Regions from separate parts of the Homo sapiens genome. Here region 2 is linked to region 1. Evidence: fine-mapped QTL for protein levels in blood plasma. A gene starts in region 1. The other region holds a variant in brackets. All regions are shown on one strand. Distances are from middle to middle.

Region 1 (3,015 bases):
CCAAGGGACTTTAATGTAAAGGAGCTCGTCACCCAGAGGATGAAGGAGCTGGGACACTAATCAGGACAGACAGTTCAGAGATTTCCCCAAAGCAGGAAGCTGTGCCATCCCACCAACTGAAAGGAAAGATGAGGGGAGAAGGTGTTGCCAGAGCCAGGAGCTGGCCTCCAAACAGGAACAAGAAAGACATAAGGGGTTGCCTGGCTGATGGACTGTCCAGAGGGAGCCAGAACTGCAGAGGGATATGGCCATTGCTGGGGAAGCCACTCAAACAGAAAACGAGGGGAGAAATGCTCTGATCTCTGCCTCCCCAGTCTTCCCCCAGGGGCTAAACCTATCAGAAAGCAGTTGATAAAGGAGTCTAGAAAATGTAGTTTCCTGCAGTTTCAGGAAATGACTGGCATGGGCCCTACCTTAATTCCTCCAAAGCACAGCTTAGATTTGGCTGTTTTGTCAAACAAACTTTAGCAATCAGGGCTGATAACAATTACAATTCAGGAAAGAAAAACTTAAACACCGATCTCAGCATATCACAGCCCATTACACCCAACCCGTTGGCAGGATCCCTGCTAAAATTTCGCTTGCCTTTGTGTGCTTGGGGCCAGGCAAACTCTCCCCAGGGGCAGGACCCTCCAATCGTGTCCACCCTGACCAGAGTCCAGGCCCCAGGGCCCTTCTACCTTCTCCAGGCCCTGCAGGAAGGAGAAAACCATTTCCTAAACACCTGTCCCTTCATTCACACGAAGCTCATGTGCAGATCCTGCCCTACGTGGCAAAATGATGGGAGAGCAGCCTGAATCTTCATCGTCCCGAACCAAAGCCCCATTCATGAAGTTCAGCCCCATCTCTAGCACAGCAGAAAGAATCACTGAAGTTTGAGTTCCATTTTTTTTCTAAACTTTTGCAGATCCTAGACCCAAAGGCTCAAGGTAAGAGCGGCTGGGCTTCCTCACCCCCAACGGCCTCTCTAGGGGAGAGCTGTTCCCAAGCCCACCCCAAGCGTGGGGACCTGCCTTGATATGGAGGATCAAGGAGGAGCATCGGGTGCCCTCAATCTCCTCCTGCCAGAAAAGCAAAGGAGTCACAGCTTTTCCTTTGCTGCAAGAAACATTCTGGGACCTTTTTTTTCCCCCTCTGTTGTCCAGTTATTTTCATCAGGGTAAATCCCCTAGGAATAGAATTATTAAAGCAAAAGATATGTATGTGGTGTAGGCTTTTGATCCACAGTGCCAAATTGCTTTTTGATAAGGCTGCATATCGTGGATTATTCTTGCCTTTTCTGCCCCTCAGCTCCTTGATAAACCACTTGGGATGAATCAGCCACCGGACCAGATAAACAAGCCAGCCTGTTACTATTGCTGTTTTCTGCAAGTCGGAAGGGAACTCCCTTAGATCCCGCCCAGAACCTGGAATTCCAGAGCACACAGGGCCAGGACACCTTTGTACCCCTGCTCCCCACCGGCACAGGTCCCACCCACCCCCTTCTCCCCGCCCCATGCCCGGGTGGAGCCAGCTGCCAGGGCGCCAAGACTCCCAGCCCTCTCTCTGTGCACGGCAGAGTAGAGGCCAAGGGAGGGCTCTGTGCCAGCCCCGATGAGGACGCTGCTGACCATCTTGACTGTGGGATCCCTGGCTGGTGAGTGCCCATCTACCCTGTGGTCAGACCTCCCTTATCCCAGGGGCCAACGATCAGGGTCATCTCCCCAGCACCCTCCCCAGCCCGAGCATAGCCAGTTTCAGTTTCTCCCCTGCTAGGGCTGAGCAGGGTGCCGGGTGTTCACGGAGAAGCAAATGCCCAGCTTAGTTTGCTGGGGGCATGAGAGGGTGCCTCAGACCCTGGGTTCTTCCAGGGACCCAAAGGACCCTCGGGTCTTGAGGGATATAGCCAGCTGTCTGAACTGGGGGTGCTGGATCGCTGCACCTCAGTGAATGGAGAATTGGCCTGGAGGAGGCAGACATCCTTCGGTCCCTCAAACGGTGTCGGCACAGTTTGTACCATCCTTCCTCTGCCTCTCACTTGGCACTGGCCTGACAGGGGAGGAGGAGGAAGGACCGGGGGAAACGAAGCTTGAGTTCACTATTGCCTCCCTCCATGCCCCTGCAGGGCCTCTTTGGCCCCTTTTGTTATCATAGATCTGAAAGAGCATTTTCTCCTAGAGTGGCCAGGTCTGCTACATTAATAGGTCTTAAGACACAGGACTCATTTGGAAACAGGTCTTAAGGGCATAGTGTTCAAAGCCAATAAAGTGAGCGGAGTGGGGGGCTCATCATTATGGAGAACGTTACATGAGACCCTAGACTCTCTCTCTGCTCTCCTGGTGCATTGCATGAAATTCAGGGAACTTCCTTAGGAAGTCAAAGCATAGTCCTGATTGAGGATGGCGAGCAGGTATGGCCTCGGCCAGGCCCTCCTTGCTCAAGTGCAGGACGAGGCCCACGAAAAGGCAGAGCTTCCCACCTTCTCTGCCACTGTCCCGCCAGGGCTGCCTGCGTCTCCAGGGCTTCCAGCTCTGTGGGACCCCCTCCAGTCTGCTTCCCAGCATCAAGCTGGGCGTTCCAGGAAGATGTGAGGCACCCCCTTGAGGCACCAAGACACGTCCCTTTAGACCCTCAGCCATACTGGTTAGAAATCCTAGAGGCTCCCAGCCCTTTGAGATGGGGGACCCCAAGAAATAGCCCTTAGGAGATTGTCAAGGGTCAGCTGCCTCGCGCTGCACACACCGGGCCCTCACCCCCCCAATCTTAGGCTGACTCCAGAGCATGTGGAATTGTTTCTTGTTTGTGTATTTTTCCTTAGCTTCCCAGCTGGTTGACAGAACATTGTTTTTCCACATGAATGTGAAAAAACAAGTTGCCTTTTATAAATCCGCCAGGCTGCCAGGCTCCACACAACACATGTCTCCCCAGATTTCACAATATAGACTTTCACCCGGGAAGTGCCGAAGCAACACAGGCTGAGGAATGGATGATAGATTTGAGGAGGAAAAGGAGCGAGGAGGGTGGGAGAAGAGGGGG
Region 2 (2,500 bases), 20 kb after region 1:
AGACATTCGGGTGGGGTCTTTTTCCTGGAGTAGGGATGGGGGTAACATGTGACAGGAGACAGGGTTTCACTGAAGTGGGAAGCTGACCCAGAGAGGCCCAAGCTCGTGGGCTAGGGGAGGATCGAGGAGTGGGCTAGAAGTAGAGGTTCCAGCAGTACCCGGAGTTCACAGTGATCGCCGAGGTCATTGGAGCTATTGATAAACTCTCCAAGCTGAGGCTGCACAGGGGCCAGGAAGAGAGGGAGGGTGATTAGCTGGCCCCTGGACTGCAGGGGTCTTGACTCTCTGAGTCACCTTCCCTCTGTTGCAAACTGTCAGTTTTACCAAAAACTCCAACAACCTCTTCCTCCATAAGTCCTTCACAAGCCCCACTTGGACTGGTGACAGGAAGTGTGTCCTGCCTGGAACTGGCTGCACCCATCCCAAAGATGCTGAGACACAGGGAGAGGCTCAGGCACTAGAGCCCTAGTCATCCCTCTCCCCTCCATTTTAGACAGGACAGTGCCTTCCCAGGCTCCCTTCTTGACCAAGATCTTCCCTGATGCCCAGCCCCTTATCTTGGTAGGGAGGTGGAGAGGACAGGCCTCCCTGTTTTCACTTCTCCCCTCCCTCTGCCTCTACCCTACCAGGGAGGCAGGACCACCCTTAGACTCAGGCAAAAGGGGCCTTTCCCTGCACCCAGCACTTTAGAAGGCCCTTCTCTGGCCCTGTCCTGGCCATTCCCCTCCTTGCAAGATGAAGACTCCATACAACAAAGGGGGCAGATCCATCTGGATCCTGTGACCTCCTTTCTAGATCACATTGTGAGTACCTGGGACCCTGAAACTCTCTGTACATATGGCCCAGAGCCTGTGATCCGTCTAGGCAGTCCTCTTTTGGGGGTACTTCCTCATGAGGGCAGACACTGCTGACATGTAGTGCAGACCCTTGGCCCAAAGGATGACCAACAGGTGGCTATTTGGAGGGGACATGGATGAGCTCGACCATGAGGGCTGGGGCATCTATACACATGTGCGTGAGGGCCCTGGCAGTGTGGGATGGAACTGGGCTGGGCTGGGCTGGGCTGGGGGCCTGCAGTG[C/T]GCTGCGGGCTTTCCCTGTACCTCCCCACTTCAGCACAGTACCTAGAGAAGTCCAAGAACTCTGAATTAAAATATGGCATCCCAGGTGGTTGTAAAAAATCTTTTTGTTAAGGTGGAAACCTCGAACATTTTATTTATTTAACAGTGTAAAAATATAATTTGTAAATTCTGACTATTTAGATGTACAGTATATGGACTTCCATTTGTGATCTTGCATTCTGACGGTAGGAGAGGCCTTGCCAGCCCAGCCAGAGAGGGTTTTCAGCATCCACATGTGGGGCCAGACCCAACCGGGCCCAGGCAGAGCCCAGCCTCACGCTTCCTTCTCTGGCCCCTTTGGTTTCCCAGACCGGACATGGACCTACTCCTTCTCCGGAGCCTTCCTGTTCTCCATGGGCTTCCTCGTCGCAGTACTCTGCTACCTGAGCTACAGATATGTCACCAAGCCGCCTGCACCTCCCAACTCCCTGGTGAGCCATCCCCCCAGGGTGGGAGGGAGAGGTCCAGGGGAGGGCCTGGGCTCCGAGGTCCCCAGTTGTCCCCAAAATGCAGGGATCCACAGACAAAGCAGGAGATGGGCCTGCTCTCTCCATTCACGGAGCTCACAGTCCCAGCTAAAGTCAACGGACGTGTAGCCCAGCAGGTCTCAGGACACATTGAAGTGGGGTGGGTGATCAGGAATAGTAGACATGGAATAAAAAACCCACATGGCTTGGAAGTGTCCAGCACCAGGAGGGTAGTGTGGGACTTGAGTGAGCAGCAAGGCAACGAGGGAGGAATGGTGGGCGCCAGGAGAGCCGTGGCACTCATGCCCTGTCTAAATGGGCAGCCGGGCACCACCATGTGGGAATGCAGGCCCAGCACTGCCTGATCTTCATGTTTTTCAAGAGAAGCCAGAGTTTCAGATTATATTGTGGAATCTCCCAATTTTCAAATATTCAGAACTAATTTTTTAAACAGATTTTTTTTTTTTTGAGATGGAGTCTCCCTCTGTCACCCAGGCTGGAGTGCAGTGGCATGATCTCGTCTCAGCACAACCTCCACCTCCCGAGTTCAAGCGATTCTCCTGCCTCATCCTCCCAAGTAGCTGGGATTACAGGCATGCACCACCACCACACCTGGCTAATTTTTGTATTTTTAGTAGAGACGGGTTTTACCATGTTGGCCAGGCTGGTCTCAAACTCCTGACTTCAGGTGATCTACCCACCTCGGCCTCCCAAAGTGCTGGGATTACAAGCGTGAGCCACTGCACCTGGCCATTTTAAACAGAAATTTTTAAATGGCAAAACTAATTGTTAAGTGGAAAGCCCTTTGTTACAGTTCTTTTAGAATTGCTGTAGCAAGTGAAGACCAGAACCACCCCCCACCCAAAAAATAAAACCACCCCCCACCCAAAAAATAAAAATAAAATGGAAAGCCCT

Which allele goes with the higher level. Positions count from the first base shown, and alleles are read on the strand shown. Strength reflects both the effect of a copy and how common the allele is.
As copies of C replace T in region 2, the plasma level of the protein whose gene starts at base 1,536 in region 1 goes down (weak association).

The links. A credible set is the group of variants that fine-mapping cannot tell apart. PIP is the chance, under the fine-mapping model, that this variant and not a neighbour inherited with it causes the effect. Protein levels are from antibody-based Olink assays in UK Biobank. Linkage for the fine-mapping came from a reference panel and not from the study's own genotypes, which makes the PIPs less certain.
Region 2: its variant is the best candidate, but not a certain one, in a credible set for the plasma level of the IL22RA1 protein (UK Biobank, PIP 0.69).

What each region holds. Positions count from the first base shown.
Region 1 is chr1:24,141,661-24,144,675 of GRCh38, reverse strand. It overlaps IL22RA1 (interleukin 22 receptor subunit alpha 1), which reads left to right and starts at 1,536. Exons shown (of 7, transcript NM_021258.4): 1 at 1,536-1,636. The coding sequence starts at 1,594.
Region 2 is chr1:24,122,351-24,124,850 of GRCh38, reverse strand. It overlaps IL22RA1 (interleukin 22 receptor subunit alpha 1), which reads left to right. Exons shown (of 7, transcript NM_021258.4): 6 at 1,428-1,549. Among named protein-coding and RNA genes, the nearest start is that of MYOM3, 11 kb to the right of the region's middle. The variant C/T (reference allele first, on the strand shown) is at 1,080.